Homo sapiens: one gene and its partners. The protein of the gene in region 2 purifies or fractionates together with the protein of the main gene of each other region. This does not show direct contact. Each region holds a gene or a part of one and is shown on either strand. Other genes may lie near its edges. The genes, in order: MYH14, SGK1, LETM1, OLA1, PCCA and MYH1.

The links.
Region 1: the proteins of SGK1 (region 2) and MYH14 purify together in Homo sapiens (affinity purification with mass spectrometry, with the first as the bait; one large-scale study listed by BioGRID). This does not show direct contact.
Region 3: the proteins of SGK1 (region 2) and LETM1 purify together in Homo sapiens (co-immunoprecipitation; one large-scale study listed by IntAct). This does not show direct contact.
Region 4: the proteins of SGK1 (region 2) and OLA1 purify together in Homo sapiens (co-immunoprecipitation; one large-scale study listed by IntAct). This does not show direct contact.
Region 5: the proteins of SGK1 (region 2) and PCCA purify together in Homo sapiens (affinity purification with mass spectrometry, with the first as the bait; one large-scale study listed by BioGRID). This does not show direct contact.
Region 6: the proteins of SGK1 (region 2) and MYH1 purify together in Homo sapiens (co-immunoprecipitation; one large-scale study listed by IntAct). This does not show direct contact.

What each region holds. Positions count from the first base shown.
Region 1 is NC_000019.10:50,304,622-50,307,830, reverse strand, and holds part of MYH14 (myosin-14), read right to left. Parts: intron 783-3,209; coding exon 674-782; intron 1-673. UniProt on the Homo sapiens protein: Cellular myosin that appears to play a role in cytokinesis, cell shape, and specialized functions such as secretion and capping.
Region 2 is NC_000006.12:134,308,113-134,311,612, forward strand, and holds part of SGK1 (serine/threonine-protein kinase Sgk1), read right to left. Parts: intron 1-3,500. UniProt on the Homo sapiens protein: Serine/threonine-protein kinase which is involved in the regulation of a wide variety of ion channels, membrane transporters, cellular enzymes, transcription factors, neuronal excitability, cell growth, proliferation, survival, migration and apoptosis.
Region 3 is NC_000004.12:1,811,157-1,814,656, reverse strand, and holds the end of LETM1 (mitochondrial proton/calcium exchanger protein precursor), read left to right. Parts: intron 1-83; coding exon 84-233; 3' UTR 234-3,178; downstream 3,179-3,500. UniProt on the Homo sapiens protein: Plays an important role in maintenance of mitochondrial morphology and in mediating either calcium or potassium/proton antiport. Mediates proton-dependent calcium efflux from mitochondrion.
Region 4 is NC_000002.12:174,077,533-174,081,032, forward strand, and holds part of OLA1 (obg-like ATPase 1), read right to left. Parts: intron 1,559-3,500; coding exon 1,436-1,558; intron 1-1,435. UniProt on the Homo sapiens protein: Hydrolyzes ATP, and can also hydrolyze GTP with lower efficiency. Has lower affinity for GTP.
Region 5 is NC_000013.11:100,095,593-100,099,092, reverse strand, and holds part of PCCA (propionyl-CoA carboxylase alpha chain, mitochondrial isoform a precursor), read right to left. Parts: intron 1-3,500. UniProt on the Homo sapiens protein: This is one of the 2 subunits of the biotin-dependent propionyl-CoA carboxylase (PCC), a mitochondrial enzyme involved in the catabolism of odd chain fatty acids, branched-chain amino acids isoleucine, threonine, methionine, and valine and other metabolites.
Region 6 is NC_000017.11:10,508,543-10,512,042, forward strand, and holds part of MYH1 (myosin-1), read right to left. Parts: intron 3,447-3,500; coding exon 3,297-3,446; intron 1,114-3,296; coding exon 943-1,113; intron 131-942; coding exon 1-130. UniProt on the Homo sapiens protein: Required for normal hearing. It plays a role in cochlear amplification of auditory stimuli, likely through the positive regulation of prestin (SLC26A5) activity and outer hair cell (OHC) electromotility.

The DNA of each region.
Region 1 (3,209 bases), on a different chromosome or scaffold from region 2:
CCAGACAGACCTGGGATCTGATCCAGGCTCTATCTCTGTGACTCTGATGCAAAATATATCCTCTTAAAGTTTCAGTTTCTTCATCTGTGAAATGGGACTAGTGAGGAAATGCAAATATGTATTTTTTAAAAAGCAGTTGCTTATGACACAGTAACTGCTCAGTAAGTAATCAAGAACACACACTCTGGGGCTAGAGTGCTGAGGTTTGAATACTGACCCCACCTCTTACCAGCTAAATAATTTTGAGCAAGTTACTTCACCTTTCTGTACCTCAGTTTCCTCACATAAATAAGAGGGTAAATAATAGCACCTTCCTTCTACCATTCTGATAAGAATTAAACACAGTAAATGTTATGTCTTTAGCACAGTGCCTGGTACATAGAAGCTAGTCCTGGTCTAGCTTCTGGGTAGGGTTTAACTTCTTCCCTTGCCCTGGCTTCCTCAGCTCCCTACAGGGCCCTTTCTAGATGCCAGCATTTATGAATTGCAAACTCACTGATTCCAACCCTCTGCTGATGTGCCAAGTGCCAAGATGGTATCTGCATTCAGTTCCAGTCCAGCACCTGCACATTGCTTCTTGTGATGGGAGCTCATTGCCTCTGGAGACAGCCTGTGCAATTTCTCAGCCAGTGGTCACACTCTCCACTGCTCCCTAATGATGCCAGCTGCTTACCTGGTCCCGGAGCTGGTCAGCCACCCTCCGCTCCTCCTCCACCTGGAGCACCACCTCTTTAAGCCGCTTCTCAGCTCTGCGCACCAGCTTTCCAGAGAGGATGCGCTCTCTGAAGAGAGGGATGAGGAGGAGTCTCAGTAGAGGGGCTCAACCTAGGATTTTGTCCCCATAGACTCATGCAGTGGCTGTCACCTTGTTCTTGGATTGGCTTCTTCCCTCTTTCCTAACCCCTAAGTGGTTCCCACAGTTTACTGAGGCCAAACACTGACATGCAGGCTGCCTTCTCCTCGGCATCCATGTCCTTGGCTTCTACTAGGACACCTCACATACCTGTTTCCTATGATGTTGTGAGTTATAATAAGTATATGTTTGGTCCTATTCAGTTTCCAAAGAGGATCATTTACAAACTACAGTTTACTCTTTGGGCCCATTCATTTTCCCCTGAAAATCATTTACTATCTCTCACAATTGAATACATCCTTTTTGTCTCTCTCCCCTATAAAGAGGATACTTAAGCCTCAACCATCTGACCCTGTATAAAAAGTCTTATATTTTGCATGGCTCCTGTGTTCATGCACATTAATATATTTGTAGCCTTTTATTTTGTTAATCTATTTATTGTCAGTTTATTTCAGCAGACTTGAATCTTCAGAGCGGGAGGGAACACTCTTTCTGCCCTTACACCTGTCCTCTCCTGCATGGACCATCACATCTGGGGTGAAGTCCATGTGATGGGACCTCTAGCAATCGGGATTGCTTGACAGCCACCCTGGATACAACAGCCCCAGATGTGCTGAGAGGAAGGCACAGGGCTGGGGGCGAGTGGGAAGGCACTAAGCAGTGGAAAAGGATGAAGGAGAGAGACTTCTTTTTTTTTGAGACAGAGTTTCACTCTTGTTGCCCAGGCTGGAGTGCAAAGGCACGATCTCCAGCTCACCGCAACCTCTGCATCCTGGGTTCAAGCAATTGTTCCTGCCTCAGCCTCCCGAGCAGCTGGGATTACAGGCATGTGCCACCACACCTGGCTAATTTTGTATTTTTAGTAGAGACAGGGTTTCTCCATGTTGGTCAGGCTGGTCTCGAACTCCCAACCTCAGATGATCCGCCCGCCTCGGCCTCCCAAAGTGCTGGGATTACAGGCGTGAGCCACTGCGCCCGGCTGAGACTTCTTCAGCTAAGAATCATCTGGTCATTCTTTGCTCCCAGGGTGACTTTATTATTCTTCTGAGAAAGGGCCTTGCTCTGTTGCCCAGACAGGAGTGCAATGGTGTGATCATGGCTCACTGCAGCCTCAATGTCCTGGGCTCAAGCGATCCTCCCACCTCAGTGTCCCGAGTAGCTAGGACTACAGGTGTGTGCCATCATGCTGGGCTAATTTTTAATTTTTATTTTTGTAGAGATGGGGTCTCGCCATGTTGCCCAGGCTGGTCTTGAACTCCTGGGTTCAAGTGATCCTCCTGCCTCAGCCTCCCAAAGTGTGGGGATTACAGGCATGAGCCACTGCACCTGGTGCAGGGTGACTTTAAGCAACTCATCTACTCCCTCGGAACCTCAGTTTCCTCATTTGTATAATGGAGCAGGGGTCCCCATAGACCTCAAGCTACAGTTCCCATAAGCCCTGGGGCCCCTGGGTGACCCTGTGGACTGAGAACCACTTGTCTCATGCACCTCTGGGGCCGTTTCCTTCTGCCTGTCCCTGAGGCCTTTCACTCTCATCAAGTTCCACAACGAATTTAGCATCTTCCTCCAAAAAGCCAATATTCCCTCAGTCACCAGGCCTTAGCTCCAAACAGTGTCTTCTTCCCCTGCCACCACCCATAGCCTCCGCTTCATTCCTTCTGCCCCCTGCTTTCTCTTCTTCATCCTCTCTTGTTCATCTTCACAGCCCCAGCCCCAGCTCAGGCCTCATCTTGTTCTGCTTGGACCATCATTCCAGACTCCTTCCAAACCTCCCAGCTTCCAGTCTCCCTCCTCTGATCCATTCCCACCTTAGCCCCAGAGAGATCTTTCTATACCTAGAGCTGGCCGTGTCCCTCCCCAGCCCACAGCCTTCCCATGGCTCCCCATTGCCCCCAGGGCTCCCCACTGCCCACAGAACAGAGTTCCGTGGCCCAGTATTCAAGGCTCTGTGTGCTTCAAGCCTCATTTACCTCCCTGTCTCCCTGATCCCTCTCCTGGGTCCCAGACTCTCAGAACCAACCACACTCCTCCTCCAAATGCCCTGATGTCTCCCAGACTTTCCCACAAAGCTGCCAACTGACTTGGGACTCTAAGCCCTGGAAATCCCATTCTTGTCAGCTCCAGCTCAAGTGCCTCCTCCTCTAGATACCCTTCCCAAACCACTACATCTCAGGGTATTCCAGCTTCTTCTTCATCTGTGTCCCTTCAACCCTTCTAGTTCATAGGCCTTCATTGCCATGTCCAGCTCATGAGTCTTTCACCTTGGGGAATCCCACCAGACATGGTATTAGACATACCATGGAGGTAATTAGACATACTTCCATGGTACGTCTAATTTTTTCAGTGACCAGCACAT
Region 2 (3,500 bases):
AAGCTATGTACTCATCGTTTTTTTCCTGTAATTTTTTTTACAGTACAACCTAAATAAATACTGGCCCAGAAAGATTCAGAGTTCAAAGAAAATTCAGCTGCTTTCGGAAAGATCATTCTATGGGAAAGATCACATTTCTGAGTAATAAACATTATAAATACATATTCCGATTTATTTTTAATTCTCAAACTATTAACTTTCATTTTTCCCCTCTGGCATATTTTAATTTTTGTCCTACAGGGACTTGAGTCTAAATATGTTTTAACAATTTGGGGGACTTTTCTTTTTTCACCTTGCTATTTCTAGAGACTAAAATCTTTGAGCTACCAAGGTCTTTCAAACTGGCTGATGTCACTCTAACAAACTCAGAGATAGCAAGATGTTCCTTAAGCCACTGGGTTAGAACGAGAATCCTTTGTTTTCTATGGGCACAATCCTAGGAATGTTTCTTCTCTTTTTTTTGAGACAGAGTCTCTCTCTGTCACCCAGCCTGGCGTGAAGTGGTGCCCTCTCAGCTCACTGCAACCTCCACCCCCCGGGTTCAAGTGATCCTCCTGCCTCAGCCTCCTGAGTAGCTGGGATTACAGGTGCACGCCACCACACCCTGCTAATTTTTGTATTTTTAGTAGAGACAAGATTTCACCGTGTTGGCCAGGCTGGTCTCAAACTCCTGACCTCAGGTGATCCACCCGCCTCAGCCTTCCAAAGTGCTAGGATTACAGGCGTTTGCTACCGTGCCCGGCAAGCCTAGGAATATTTCACTTCATGCTTTTCTCTTTTGCCTTGCTGTGAGCTTATCCTCCAGAGACAACAGAGAGAGAGAAAGAGAGAGAGACAGGAGAGAGAAAGTGGAAGAACCACATGACCAGTCATTTCCCGAAGCAAATGGCGTTTTGGGTGAATGCCCTGACCTAGGAGGGAAAAAGAGGCCAAGGTTACCCTAATGTTACAGAAGTAGCTAAGTGAATTCTTCTCCGAAAAACGTCACAGCAGGCTCTAGAAAGCAATTAGAGTAATATTTTGGCACCTCGAACTACCAAATAGAAGATTCCTCTACTGCTCTAGTTACATCTTTGATTTTCATTTCCCTTTGTTGTAAATACTTACAATGTCATTTCAGAATGCTGCAGAGAAATAGATGTGAGAGTAAACAAACTATAATAATAATCCTTTCTCCACATGCCATGGCAGCTGCAGGAGGAGGCCAACGCAGCACCGAACTTGCCTTACTGTCTGCTTTTCCTGTCCTCCTCCTCCTGCACCTCCTTCACCTCCTCCACCTCCTTCTCCTCCACTTTCCCACATGGTCTTTTATAAATTTGCCAGCATCACTGTGCAGTTTGCCAGAGAAACCTGGCCACTTGCTGGGTAAGCCTGCTCTTAGACCAAGGACCAGGGTAGGTCACTGCTGCTGTCCTCATTTCTGGGCCAGAAGGATTCACTGAGAGTGAGGTCCAGAACCACCTGCTTTCCCATTACAGAGGATGTGGATCTCTATAGAGACACTGCGTATCCCTTCAGTTAAAGCTCTTCGAAGACTCTTTTTACCCTGCGAGCTGAACTTTCTTGAGCCCCATAGAATGGATAAAAATCTTCATCCCCAGGTTGGTGAGGAGCCAATGATTTCACGCTCAAACAAGCTGACAAGCTAGGAATCCTAGCTTTCCTTAGCAGGCAGGAAACAGCATCCCACTCATAAGTCAGGAGTCTTTTCTGCCAATGTTAGGAATGTTGATATTTACCTTTATTTTTGGACTTATTTCTAAAAAAAATTAACTAGTATGTAAAAAAAAATCACACTTTAAAAATATGCTTCTACAATATTTGCTCTAGCGAACTATCTTTAGCTTGACCTAAATTACTAATTAAACTTTTCTATTGATCCAATTCCCATTACTGTTCCTGCCTTTATGCTTTCATATTCGGAAATCTCCAACATGCATTTTGATGGCTCCACCCCCCACGTTCCTCACTCCTGCCCCCTCATTTTGGTTTTGCTTTACCTTGTTAAGCACTTACAGATCATAAAATATGGGTGAGCTCAGAATATCTCTTACTCCAGTGTTACATATGGCACCCGCATTTCAGCACCAGCCCTTTAAAAAATGGTGCAGAATTTCAAGGAACTCAGCTACACTTTCCATTCAAAATCCCTCCCAAGCACTGTAGCTAAGAGCCTATCTCAGGATTTTCTTGAGAGCTGCTGGGGAGGCAAAATATCTATCTAACGAAAATGGCTCATCATCCACATTCTGCAGTACTGAGACTAATTCCCCAGCACTGCCAAACCTAGACTGCTGAACTCCCTCATCCAAACTCTCTAAGACTTAGTGGTCAAAGTGCCAAAGGCATCCGTCTTACTCACACTCTGTGGCTCCTAAGACCATGCTGAAAAGTGAGGATAAGTAATAATTGAAAGACATTTTTAGGATTCTAGTTGGGAGGATACATAATGCAGATACTATATAGTTTTTGTTTGTTTGTTTGTTTTTTGAGATGCTGTCTCACTGTGTTATCCAGCCTGGAGTACAATGGCGTGATCTTGGCTCACTGCCACCTCCGCCTCCCAGGTTCAAGTGACTCTCCTGCCTAGGCCTCCTGAGAAGCTGGGATTACAGGTGCCCACCACCACTCCCAGCTAATTTTTGTATTTTTAGTAGAGACGGGATTTCACCATGTTGGCCAGGCTGGCCTCAAACTCCTGACCTCAGGTGATCTGCCTGCCTTGGCCTCCCAAAATGCTGGGATTAAAGGTGTGAGCCACTGTGCCCAGCCTACTATATATTACTGAAGTTAGTAATTCATATTAATGCAAAATAAAAGGAGATTAGTGAATCACTGCTACGTCTGTCTTGTTTGGCCTGACAAGAAAAGTATCATAGAAGAGAAGGTGTGTTATGGGCATTGGATCAGCAAATAAGCTGAGGTCAAGCTTCCCTAAGTACCCACCAGCTCTGAAGGGGAAGTGACAGCTTGTCTTTGAGCCAGATTTAGGTTACATTTCAGTCTTAATTTATATCTAATCCATATCTAAACATAGAGAGAAATAAAATGCATTAGATTTCTGAGCCACCAAAGCCTGTTTAAAGGAAGACGGAGGAGGAAGGAGAAGAGGGCAATGACTTAGGGGCAAGTAATAGAAGGATTTGTTCTTTTATTTTATGCATTCTTTTATTCAACAAATATGTTTTGACAAGTAGGGGATACAGTGAACAAGGTAACTGGTTTTCTGTCCTTAAAGACCTTCCAGCCAGTTGTGGTGGCTCATGCTTGTAATCCCAGCACTTTGGGAGGCCAAGGCTTGTGGATCACCTGAGGTCAGGAGTTGGAAACCAGCCTGGCCAACATGGTGAAACCCTGTCTCTACTAAAAAAAAAAATACAAAAAAATTAGCTGTGCATGGTGGTGCACACCTGTAATCCCTGCTACTCAGGAGGCTGAGGCAGGAGAATTGCTTGAACCTAGGAGCCAGAGGTTGCAGTGAGATGAGATGGTGCCAC
Region 3 (3,500 bases), on a different chromosome or scaffold from region 2:
CGACTGACGGCGCTGGCCCCGCCTCTGCCTCACTGTGCTGTAGGGCGCAGCCACCTGAGCCTCTCCCTTTCCCACGTGTGTAGGTGATTGAGCTGGTGGACAAAGAAGATGTTCACATCTCCACCAGCCAGGTGGCTGAGATTGTAGCAACACTGGAAAAAGAGGAGAAGGTGGAGGAGAAGGAGAAGGCCAAAGAGAAGGCAGAGAAGGAGGTCGCAGAGGTGAAGAGCTAGAACCACTGGCCTGGGCACCTGTCCTCCTGCTGTGCCGTCACCCTGGCAAGGGCCGTGAGGGCGATTGCTTTGTGGTGATTCTCAGTGGCTCATCTAATATTTTGGCTGGAATAAATCAGAGACTTCCATAATCAAGTAAATTTTAATTTTCATCATTCCACGGAGATTCAGTCTGTCTGGAATCCCGGAACCCCTCCACAGAATCGTGTCTGGATCCACACTGTGGTGTGGCTGCCACGGCCTCCTGGCTCCAGAGGCAGCTGGGCTGGGCCAAGGCAGGAAGGCGCCCCCATGTGTGTGGCCTCAGTCTCAGCATCTGACTGTGCTGCCCTGTCCCCAGGGAAGAGAATGAGGACCACGTGGACTCCGCCCACACAGAGCTGGCTGCTGTGCCCACCCTCAGGGGCGTCAGGAGACACAGCCTGGCCTCCTCAGGGCTGAAGATGCCTCCATTCGCCTGTGGACCTTGATTTCTAGATTTCAGTGTCAATAGACCTGTCTTCCTGCACACTTTCAGTTGGATGTGGGTCATTGTGGAGACAGAGGTGTCTGCCATCTCTGTGGCCTCTGGAGAGTGACGTCTCCCTGCTGGGAGTGCTGGTTCTCACGTGCGGTTTCCCTTGTGTATCGGAGCTCTTTCTCGGCTTTCTATTTCCCCCAGTTCTTTAAGCAGTCAATTGGCACAGAGTTTCCCACGGGGGCTGCAGTGGATTCACTGTGTCAGGGATGAGCCTGGCTTGGGGGTTGGTGGGGCTCTGAAGCGCATTTGGGGTTCTTTGTAGCTTCTAATGTGAGGTTTGAGTCCAGTGCGCCCACAGCAGCATGCCCTTCTCACCCCTTGCAGTGTTGCAGGCTCAGGCCCCTGGGCTCCTTCAGCAAGCAGGCTAGTCAATGAGGCATGAGGATCCGGCACAGGGCATCCCCTGGGGCTTCAAGGGCAATACCCCCGTGCTTAGGGTTTGCCCTGTGCCCTCTGGGTGGGGTGGCCTCCCCGCACTCGGCAGCATGGCCAGGCTGGCCAGGGCGTGGGCAGGTGGTGTCCTGTGGCACCTCCATCCTCCTGCCCAGCCGGCTGTGTCACACTCATCTTTTTAAGGTCAGGTTGGTTCCTGGCAAAAATGTACCTCCAGGGGCCTCCAAGCATAGGATTTGGAAGACAGGAACGGCACAGGCGTCCAGGAAAGCAGCTGCACTCAGACAATGCCTTCTCCATTACTTGAAGCTTCTTTCTGTTCAGCCATTAAAGAAACTTGACAAAATAGGAACAGGAGATATTTCTCAATTGTAAACCTTTGTGCAGGGACAGTTGGCTTCCAGAGGCTTTCAGCTTTCAGTTATTTGAGAAGTTTGTTTTAGATCCTTAACTAATATTTATGAATTCTCTCACCCTGTGTAAGTAGCCTGGTGTTCGTTTGTCCAAGTGTACTTACCCTTGAGAACAAGTCTTGCAGTTGCCAGGTGTGTGCAGACGCCTCTCCTGTGAGCGGCATCGCGGGCCCAGTCAGCTGCCCCGGCTCTCATCCTCGTCCTCACTGCCTTGGCTGAGCACTGTTGACGTGAACAGCCACTGCAACAGGCAGCCCATCCCACTGTCCCCTCTGCCCTGGACTCCGCATGGCCTCCAAAAGCCAGCTTGCCCTCCGGGTGCTGCAGGGGCTTTGCAGGTGGGGAAGGCTCTGGTGGGTGCCTTTGGTGGCTTCCGTGACATCAGCCGTGCTCTGATGCAGGCTTGCTCCCTCGTCATTCTCCCTCGTCATTCTCCCTCATCGTTCTGTGTGCATTTTTCTCTATGTCCTGACCTTTCTTCTTGCACCTAAAAGTGGTGTCTGGGTGCAAATGTAAGCAGTGGTGGATCCAGAAATATGAGCTTTGTGTAATAAGCTTCTTAAAACAGTCCTTTCTTACACCTGCCCAGGGCCAGACCCTCGGTCTTGGCCTTTTTCAGGAGCTAGGATATCTGCGCCTGGTGAAAATGAAACGAATTCCTGATTTAGGAATTCAGTGTTTCCTCCTCACTCCAGCTAAGCACTCACTTTTTTTTTTTTTTTTTTTTTTTTTTGATACAGAGTCTCGCTCTGTCACCCAGGCTGGAGTGCAGTGGTGCGATCTCGGCTCACTGCAAGCTCCACCTCCCGGGTTCAAGCGATTCTTCTGCCTCAGCCTCCTGAGTAATTGGGATTACAGGCATGCGCCACCATGCCCAGCTAATTTTTTTTTTTTTTTTTGAGACAGAGTCTTGCTCTGTCTCCCAGGCTGGAGTGCAATGGCGTGATCTCGGCTCACTGCCAGCTCCGCTTCCTGGGTTCACGCCATTCTCCTGCCTCAGCCTCCCGAGTAGCCAGGACTACAAGCACCCGCCACCACACCTGGCTAATTTTTTTGTATTTTTATTAGAGACAGTGTTTTACCGTGTTAGCCAGGATGGTCTCGATCTCCTGACTTCGTGATCTACTCACCTCGGCCTCCCAAAGTGCTGGGATTACGGGCAAGTTTTTATTAGAGATGGGGTTTCATCATGTTGGTCAGGCTGGTCTTCAACTCCTGACCTCAGGTGATCCACCCGCCTCAGCCTCCCAAAGTGCTGGGATTACAGGCATGAGCCACCGCGCCCGGCCTGAACTCTCAGTTCTAACGCAGGGATTCAGGAATTGGGCTTTCAGACTCCTTCTGCAGTGTCACAGTCCAGACTTTTTTTAAATGAAGGACACCCCGCAGTGGCTCACAGTGGGTCCCAGGGCTAGCAGGAGCGTGCTGGGGAGCCGGCTCTGTCTTTGTTCGCAGTGGGTCCCGGTGCTGGCAGGAGTGTGCTGGTGAGCCGGCTCTGTCTTTGTAAATCCTTCAGGGGTCCTACGGCTGACTCCACCGGACAGCCCGTCCTGGGCCGTGTTAAGCACCTTTTGTAGAAATCGTATTTTTATTAAAACATCAAATCTGTGTTCCTGTAACAGTGCAGAGTAATAATATTTCTGAACCGTTGGGCACACAGGAGCGAGTGGAAGCCGGCAGAGCTGTCCACGTGGCTGCAGGGGCTGGGCCTTGGGGCGCGTGTGGCTGTGAGGCCAGTTCCAGAAGGAGCCTCACCATCCCTGGGGGTTTGAGTGCTGGGCCGCCCTCCATGGGTTCAGCCCTTGGCTTCACGCTTCCTGCTCTGCAGGATGGGCCTGCAGGGTCAGGAGACCCACGTCCCCAGGTCCTGTGACAGCGTGAGCTGCTCATGGAACAGTGTGGGACGTTCTCCAGGCCAGTGGCCCTGCCACCTGGTCATGC
Region 4 (3,500 bases), on a different chromosome or scaffold from region 2:
ATGGTATCCTAGGTGAAAATGTCAGAGTCAACCTTTTCTAATTTATAGTATAAAAGCTGCCAGTTAGTGGTAAATAGTCTTACAAGCAGGAAATATTATTTTATTGGATATTATAAAGTTTCTCTCAATTGTTAAAGGAAATATTTACAATTCATCTATCAAGTTTATTACAACATAGATCTACTAAGGATTGGTAAACAGGCTTACCATTTTAAGAGTATAAAAAAAGAAGCATCTGATCTCTGAATTCTAGTAATAGAAAACATCCTCATTTTTATCTTCCTTATGAAAAATAGATATGCCAACATGATGTAGCATGTTGACAAATAATCTGAGATTTTTGTTCGTCTAATTAGTATTCCTGACAAAGTTCAATCTCAGTATTTTTGCACACCTACCTATATCTATACAGATGCCACCATCAAAAAATTAACAACTGTGTTTACTTGTAAACTGTTATTCCTTCCACTCTTTCAAAAAAACAAAATGGTTCTCATTCAACATTGAACCAATTATACCAAGATTTTCCCCCTCCTCTTCCTGGTGTTCCAACAGTTCTATTAAAGTCCTGCTGTTCGGTATGACCTTTCCAATGATACCAGTGAAAATAAAGTAAACCTGAAATAAACTTTTTTGTATTCCTTTCAACTTATGAAATAGTAAACACAAGAATCTTCTTTAAATTCTATAACATTTACTATAGTAGTCTTCAAATATTAAATTAAATTAAAGAACCTTCCTACAATGTCAGTTTAACCAGCTAATCTGTCTATATTAGAGATTGCTAGATTTCTCTAAGTAACATCTAATAAATCAAACAAAATTAATTTTGCAACAGAATTTACATTTAACAAGTCATCTACTACTCATGTATAAAACTGCTTCACTATTAGTGTCTGCAAACCAAATTATCCTTATTAGCTAAAATAAAGCACAATTTTGGACCTGCCCTCTAGTGTTGAGAAAGCAAATCAAATCCCCAAGTATCTTTAAACAACAAACAAGTAAAACCATGAAGTTTTAGAAAGAACAGCTTTTATTTAACTAACTTTCTATCTCTATTCTTGAAGTAATTATAAGCATATATATTATACTTCAGCTATTCAAATGTAATAAGTACAATTTTTCATTGGCCATGAGTGAACAAATTCTTCGAAATTATTTACAATTACTTAAACCTAATTTATTTTATTTTCAATTATAGAAAAAAACCTCCACAAAACTACTGACAATTCACACATTTTTAAAATGATCTAAAAGTATGTAAACATCTATAGCTCTTAAGTCAGTTGATAGTAACACTAAACGCTGATCATCTTATTACTTTATTTTAGACTACACTCAGTTTAAAAGATAATTATCATTCATTTTTATCATGACTAACTTCGCATCAGTGGAAACATTGTGAAATACAAAAATAAAAACAATTCTTTACCTTGACTGCATTTTCAGAACCTTCCTCTTTAAAATCTTCGTATTTCATTACTTCAGCCATAATGAATCCCTTTTCAAAATCTGTGTGAATCTTTCCTGCAGCCTGAGGAGCCTTAGTCCCTTTCTTTGAAAAGAAAGACCAGAGAAAACTAATTGCATTTAAGATGACTGATTGTAAGCACAGAGTTTCTTTTCTCTGATCTGCAGTTGGGCTCAACTAGAACTTAGTTTAATATCTGTTAAGATGTCAGGTATATAATTAGTACATTTTCAACACTGGGTAGTATCTGTGCAGCAGATTTAGCATAGATCAGTAGATATTAAAGAAGCGTGGCTTTGTTTTTCCTAACAGTCATCCACTGTTTTATTGATTTAGAAGCAGTGGTCTGGTTTTGGTGTAGGTTTCATTTCGATTTTCTATTCTTCACAGTGGAAAAAAATAGATTTTTAAGTAACTTTCAAGCTGAATTATCAAAGGTTTTAAAAAGATAAAAAGCTCTCAAAATTTCAGCTCATCTAAAGAACATATAAAAATCAATATACAAAGGGACATTTTAAAGGCATTTCCAACAAATCATATTGGAAATCTACATTCAGCAAATAATTGTGAAACTCTCAAAAAATTTCGATAATAAAATTTTTGAACATTTTGCATAATATTCCCTGCCTCTAACCATCATGAAGGAAATTCAAGTTGATATAGGGAGAGAAATGTCTTATAATTAACCCATATGTTATATTACAAGGATATATATTCCACACACACATAACCATGGAAAGAAATTTGAGAAATAACGGTGACCTAAAGGCTGCTTAATAAAGCATGTTAAAGTGATAAGGAGTCTGACACTAGAAAGCACAGTTTTTACAATAAAAGATGTATTGGGTTAATATAGCTACTCACTGATGCTTACCTGACTAAATATCTTAGCACATTAAATCATGGATACTTACAATCAGTCTTAAGATAAACCAGCTTTCACATTTTCAAGCCCAGAACATGCTATCTTTCCTACCTCCACATACTTAAGTTAGAAAGTTTTAAGGCTTTAAAATACATCTTTAAAATATATAGTAAAAATAAATCCTGGCAATTTGTTTACCAACTTGGATTTGCTTTGACATTATTTTTAAAATCTATATAAAAGGACCTTGGTTAGAAGTCAATCAAACATTTTTTTACAAAGGGGAGAGGAGATAAAAGAAAAGTAAATCTCACATTCACACAAGGCATTTAACATTATGTTAACTGCCTCCATGTTTCTATCCATATTAAATCAAAATACATGTAACAATAAATTACAGTAGTCACTGAAAACAGGAATCAAAGCACCACTAAAATTTATCGTGTAGCATATATTTAAAAAGCATAATAAAAGACTGAATAAGACACTATTTCTAAAAGTTCTGGTATTATTTTTATATTCTGTAACATACTATTTAGGATCACATATATTTCAAAATATTTTTCAATAGTAACTACTATGTTACAATATATTTAAATTTAAAAGCAAACCATTACAGTTCAGTTTCTATTGTCCTCTGGGAATAAATTAGTCATTCTCTCTGTTGTATTCAGTATACATCAATTTTTAAAATACATATCACATTTTTAAAGAAGTAAGACTGAACATATAACACTGAAAATAAACATTACTTCTATGAATTCAAATTTAAAAAGGCATGAATTATTACACGTTGAGTTTAGCTTTTTGAGCCCAACTGTGTATCTATGAAGAGCATAATGATGTCATATTGCTTTTATTGCTGAAAATGTAATCCGAGCAAAGCAAAGGAGGAAAGAACCACCCGCAACCCAAACAAACTTAGCGAATACAAAATGAAAAGCAACATCAATTTCACTGCAGACAAACCCAGTCACACAGATTAAGCAAGCACAATACTGGTGCGTCTTATCTCTGACCACAGGAGGAGGGTAGACAGATTCTACAGGATGAAGAAATTCAGACTATGTAATAGGCAGAATCAATTGTTACCTGCCTCAATCAATGCCGCTCCACTTTCACTGTTCAGCAGCTCACAAATAATTAAAGTTATCCTGGACA
Region 5 (3,500 bases), on a different chromosome or scaffold from region 2:
CTATCCTCAAAACTGGGTTAATGGAGCTATAAAATGATCTCACCAAGGTCAAAGTAAACATTAGTTTACTTCATCTTGCTTCATCTCTAAAATTCCAGGTGAAGGTCTTATCCATGTATTATGACACGGTATTTCATCATGCATTGTAACAGAGCCCATGCCCTTCTCTGAAGACACTTAATTAGGTCTGGCTTTTTCCTGGAAGCACAGCTTTTCTTTCAAATAGACTATTTAGTCTTCAGGATCTTAGAGACCATTCCAATCTTCAGTGTCTGCCAAAAGCCAAGTTGAACACCTAATATTTGAGAGAGATGTTCAAGACTCAAGATTCTCTGGGCTCTGCCTCTGTACTAAGCTCAAGCACCAGGAAACTATACATGTCAACTCTAGAGCTCCATCATCCCACCCTTGACTCTTCCGCCAGGCCATTCTTCCCCATCCCGCTGTAGCAGATGTTGTCAGTGGCCACTCAGATCCTCTCTAACTGCTGTGTTGACAACTAACGGCTCACACCTGCACCCTCATCTCGACCATGTTCCTCAACTATACAGCTCTCCATCAAGCCTGAGAGCTCCCCCGACCCTGCCTGGCCAAGGGCTGACTAACACTGCATTCAAAAGGCCAGTCCCAGCACCTCAAGGTGGGACTTGATTAGTAGCACAATCTGTGCCCTAGAGCTGTTCCATCCAATATGGCAGCCACGAGCCACATTCAGATGTGCTCTAAGAGTAAACTACACACTGGATTTTGAAAACTTAGTACCCAGAAAATGTAAAAGACCTCATTAGTGAATTTTTACATTTACATATTCAAATAATACTTTGAATATTTGAATATATTAAGTAAAATATATTAATTTCACCTTATTTTACTTTTTTTGTTTTTTTAAGAGATGGGGGTCTCACTATGTTTGCCCAGGCTGGACTGCAGTGACTACTCACAGGCACAATTATAGCCCATGGCAGCCTCTAACTCCTAGGCTTAAATGATCTTCCCACCTCAGCCTCCTAAGTAGCTGAGACTACACATCCCTGCCACCACACCTAGCTTCATTGTACTTTTTTTTTTTGAGACAGGATCTCACTATGTTGCCCAGACTGAAGTGTAGTGATAGGATCATAGCTCACTGCAGCCTTGAACTCCTGCATTCAAGCAATCCTCCCACCTCAGCCTCCTGAATAGCTGGGACTATGGATGCATGTCACCATGCCCCACTAATTTTTTTATTTTTTGTAGAGACTGGGCGGCTGGGGGGTTCTCACTATTTTCCCCAGGCTGGTCTTGAACTGCTGGCCTCAAGTGATCCTCCCACCTTGGCCTCTTTGCTTTACTTTGTTAACATAAGTATTCGAAGATTTGTGTTTGTTTGTTTTTTGAGACGGAGTCTCACTCTGTCGCCAGGCTGGAGTGCAGTGGTGCCATCTTGGCTCACTGCAACCTCTGCCTCCCAGGTTCAAGCAATTCTCCCGTCTCAGCCTCCCGAGTAGCTGGGATTACAGGCATGTGCCACCATGCCTGGCTAATTTTGTATTTTTAGTAGAGATGGGGTTTCTTCATGTTGGTCAGGCTGGTCTCGAACTCCCGACCTCAGGTGATCCACCTGCCTCGGCCTCCCAAAGTGCTGGGATTACAGGTGTGAGCCACTGCACCCGGACCATTCTTTTATTTTTTAATTGAGATGTAATTCACATACCATAAAATTCACCCTTTTAAAAAAGTATACAACTCCGTGGTTTTTAGTATATCCACAAGGCATGGAACCATGATGGCTACTGATTCCAGGACATTTTTTATCACCCCAAAAAGACAACCCTTAACTATTCGCAGTCACTCCCATCCCCTCTCCTCCAGGCCCTGGGCAACCACTAATCTACTTTCTGTCTTCATGGATCAGTCTATTCTGGAGACTGCATATAAACACAAAATCACACAATAGCGACCTTGTGTGTCTACCCTTCAAAAGTCACTCTTAATTCCTTCCTTTCCCTGTTTGTACATACCTTACAGATACTGTAGGTTCAGGTCCAATTAATTATTGTTCAAAACAGTTATTGCTCAAAAATGCTAACAATCATCTGATCCTTCACCATGTTAGCCAGAATGGTCTCAATCTCTTGACCTTGTGATCCACTCGCCTCGGCCTCCCAAAGTACTGGGATTACAGGTGTGAACCACTGCGCCCGGCCTCACTTCTTTTCTTAAACCCCATGAACCAACCTCTGCTTCCAAGTTTTCTTCTGCAGCATCCTCACCTCTCTCAGCCTTCGCAGAACTGAAGCGAGGACCTTGCGCTGGATTAGGCTATGGCTTAAGGAAATGTTGTGGCTGGTTTGATCTTCTATCCAAACCACTAAAGCTTTCGCCATATCAGCAATAAAGCTGTTTCACTTTTTTTAATCAGTTGTGCGCTCACTGGAGTAGCACTTCTAATTTCCTTCCAGAACTTTTCCTTTGCATTTACAATTTGGCACAAGAGGCCCAACTTTCAGTCTATCTTGGCTTTTGACAGGCCTTCCTCACTAAGCTTAATGATTTCTAGTTTTTGATTCAAAGTGAGAGATGTGTGACTCTTCCTTTCACTAGAACGCTTAGAAGATTATTAATTGGCCTAATTTCAATATTGTTGTATCTCAGAGAATTAGGGAAGCCTGAGGAGAGGGAGAGACATAGGGGAATAACTGCTTGGAGAAGTCAAAACTCACACATTTATCAATTATGTTTCTCCAACTTATATGGGCGTGGTTCACGGCACCCCAAAATATTTACAATAAGAATATCGAAGATCACTGATCACAGATCACCATAACAGACATAGTAATAATGAAAAAATTATCAAAATGTTTCACAGAGACACCAAGTAAGTATGTGCTATTGGAAAGATGACACCAATACAGTTGCTCAAAGCAGGGTTGCCACAAACCCTCAATCTGTAAAAACAACAAAAAAAAAGCAGTATCTGCAGGGTCAATAAAGCCAAGATATGAGGTACATCTGTATCTGCCTTCAAACCCCACAGCAAGATACTGGCTCTAGCTCCAAAATACATTCCAAGTCTGACCAGTTCTCAGCAACTCCAGTGCCCTAGCACAAGTTACCATCATCTCTAGCTTGGTCTTCTACAACAGCTTCCTGATGGGTCTCTCTGTTTCCACTCTTCCCACCCCAGTCCCCAATCCTACTCCCACCCCTACTAAGACATTCGCTACGTACTAGTCACAAACGTCTTTTCCAAACATAAATTCAATGTGCTTAAATGCCTCCAACTGGACTCTCATTACTAAATTCCAAATACAAGCCCCTGATGACTCTGTCCCGCCTACCCACTCCTCCTCCCTCATCTCCTAAGATCACCCCCTCATTCAGTTCACTCCAACCACAGCAGCCACATTCATCCCTTAATTATGCCAAATGCAATCTCCCCTCAGAGCTTTTGCCCTGGCACTCCTTGGTCTGCAATGCTAGGCCCCCATATAGTCACATGGCTGGCTGGCTCAGTTTCC
Region 6 (3,500 bases), on a different chromosome or scaffold from region 2:
TGGCAGGCTTGGGCTTCTGGAAGTTATTGGATTTTCCAAGATGTTGTTCATACAGCTTGTTCTTGAAGGAGGTGTCTGTCGCCTTGGGGAACATGCACTCCTCTTCCAGGATGGAGAAGATGCCCATAGGCTGGAAGAATGAAAAGAAATAAATGCCACTTGAATTCTGTCTGCTTATAGAAATAACATTTAACATTAATAATTATCCCATCTGAGTAAATTCATCCTTTAATTCTACAGAGTTAACGAAAACTCGTTCCTTTGGTCAGAAGTCATTAACTTCACAAATATTTATTGGGTGCTGATCAGGAGCCACGTGCTGTATCAGGCTCTGGGATATGACAGAGTAAGACAGATGAAGGCTGTGCTCCTGTGGAGTTTGTGTCTTTACCCCAAAGACCTGAGAGCAATATTTCTCCAAGTGTGACTTGCGAATTAGCTGCATCAGAATCACTTGCTCAAAATGAGGATTCCGATGTTTCATCCTACACTTACCAGAAAATATTTCTAGGGGTGAGACAAGGGAAACCTGCAATTGTACCAAGTATTCTTGGTGGGTCTTTCGCACACTGGATTTTAAAAGCCTCTGCTTTAACGTACAGTAGTAGAAATTCATACTTTGAATGCAGTAATAATGACTTTAGGATGACAAAAAACAGTAAGTAAAAAATATTCTAGTCAGTGCACTTTTTGTAAGGAAAGATGACTTTAAATGTAAGACTTTGTATTGCAAACTGTGGGTAAGTGTTGTGTTCTGGACTCTATAGAAAATATTTAATCTCCTTTTACCAGAATATCTACTTCAGAGTTGGCAAAATAAGGAATTCTCCTCATGTTTTTCACAAGTAGAAATATTTAGCCATTGCCTATATCAAGATTTTATGATTTTCTTTTAAATACTGTACAGCAGTATGATCTGTGGTCTGCAAAAAGCAAGCCAACCTTCTCGATGAGCTCGATGCAGGCAGCCAGGTCCATCCCAAAGTCAATGAACGTCCACTCAATGCCTTCCTTCTTGTACTCCTCCTGCTCCAGCACGAACATGTGGTGGTTGAAAAACTGTTGCAGTTTCTCATTGGTGAAGTTGATGCACAGCTGCTCCAGGCTGTTGAACTAAATGAGTTGAAAATACAAATTAGCATTCAATTTATAATGAAATCTTCTCTTTGAAAGGGGTGTTTTTTTAGTTAGCCAAATTGCCCTCTTAGGATGGTATCGTTTTGTCCTACCTATACCTACACAATGAAGTTTTTGCTGCTGTTAGCATACTTGTTAAAATTGTCTCTTCAACACCTGTCAACAAGCTCTGAATGATGCTTTCCTATGCAATAAAAAAAAGTTGTTTGGAGCTGGAGGCCATTATTCTTAGCAAACTAACGCAGGAACAGAAAACCAAATACTGTATGTTCTCACATATAAGTGGGAGCTAAATGATGAGAACACATGGACACATAGAGGGAAACAGCACACACTGGGGCCTATTGGAGGGTGGAGAGTGGGAGGAGGGAGGGGATCAGAAAAAATAACTTATGGGTACTAGGCTTCATACGTGGGCGACACAGCTTACCTATGTCGCAAACCTTCACATGGACCCCTGAACTTAAAAGTTTTTTTTTTAAAAGTTGTTTGGTTTTTATAGTATTTGTTTTTGTTAGTCAGAGGTTTCTTAATGATTATGATTATGTTGTAAACTAGCTAAATTTGCTAGATCTGAGCCATTATGGTCTGTATGTTGTCCTTAATAATAAAAATTCAACAGCTAATATTTGGTGAACATTTACTCTACAGTAGACACTATGCTGAGTGCCTTGTATAAGTTACTGCATTTAATCCTCACAGCTACCTTTGTAGGTGGTATCATTTGCTCATTTCATGGGTGAGGAAACACTATTAGGGAGGCTAAGTAACTTGTGTAAGACCATGGTAGTAAGGGTCATGGCAGGAACCCCAACATTTTGATGCCAGAGCCAGTGTTTGTAACTACTCCTAGAACTTGAGTAGACCTGCCCTGCTTTATTATTCGGGACACCTACATAGAAACACAATTGAGGATGCCCTTGTTTAAGGGCATTATCACCATACACAAAAGTCAAAGGAATTCTATGAGGGGGATGAATCTGGCAAGCATATGCGAAGTGCCAGAAGCCAGTCACAAAGACCACATATTATCCGATTCCATTATAAGACATGTCCAGAACAGCCAAAACCAGAGACAGAAAGTAGATTAGGGGTTTCTGTGGCCTAGGGGGAGGACAAAATAGAATTTCCTGTTGGGATGATGAAAATGTTCTGAAATTGTTATGATGATAGCATGTACCTGTGAATATACTAAAAACCATTGAATTTTATACTTTAAATAGGTGAATTGTATGATATGTTAATTATATCTCGATAAAGCTGTTACTTCAAAAAAAAAAAAAGAAGCAGCTCAAAATGATTGCAAGTACCCTGTCATTAGTTCTCTTATTTTAAAAAGTGTGGATTGCTTTTTCTGTTCCTGCTTGATGACAGATTATTCCTTTCTTTCCACGTTGGCTTGGAAATGTCTGGAAGTGCTTCCGTTTCTAAAATTTCATCCAGTTTCAATCAGTCCGTACACAGATAAAAGTTTAGAATTGGGACCTCTAAATGAGACACATCCGAGATACTGCTGTCAAGTGGAGGACTGCAGTAGCCCTATTTCCTAAGCTGTGTAGCAGGTATTCTTCCTTAGGCAGACAAATTTGAGTTTATTTACGATGCCATTTCTATACTCAATACCTGGGTATTGCAGAGGTTATCCTAATAATTAAACACATTTCATTTCTCGGCAAACAGAATCTCAAAGTCTTTCTTTTAAAGACTTTGTCTTCTCCACTGCTATCTTTGATTCTATTGTTGCCCTCAGTATCTTACTGTTTACTGAGTGCTGCCTGCATGCTTGGGGACTGTGTTAAGGGCTGAAAATTCAGAAATCTTGAAACTAGCAGACAGATCTCAGAAGTGAATCTGTGATCTGGAATGTTAAGTGCTTTACCTACAGGTCCTAGTTGAATTTGCCCAATGATCAATCAGGTACAATTCTCATTATTACACAGCTAGTAATTGGCAGAGCAGGAGTTTGAATCCAGGTCTGTCTCATTCCAAAGTTCACTTCCTTTCACGGTCTTTTGGTGCTCTTTCATGTGTCAGTTAAGTTTAAAGTGCAGCTATTTTTCATAGACCCTTTCCATAAGTGACTACAGGCATGCTATATGACTGCAGCAACAAGCTTGCTTGTTGGAAACTTTTTTGGTACAATTTTTCTGCTAACTCACATCAAAGATCTCAAAGCCAGCAATGTCCAAGACCCCAATGAAGTACTGCCTGGGCTGCTTGGTGTCCAGCTGCTGGTTGATGCGGGTGACCATCCACAAGAACATCTTATCGTAGACAGCTTTGGCCAGAGCACCCACTGCATTGTACACCTTCACAGATAAAGTTTGTTGGTGTTATTAAAGACATGTCATGAAGGCCTGGGA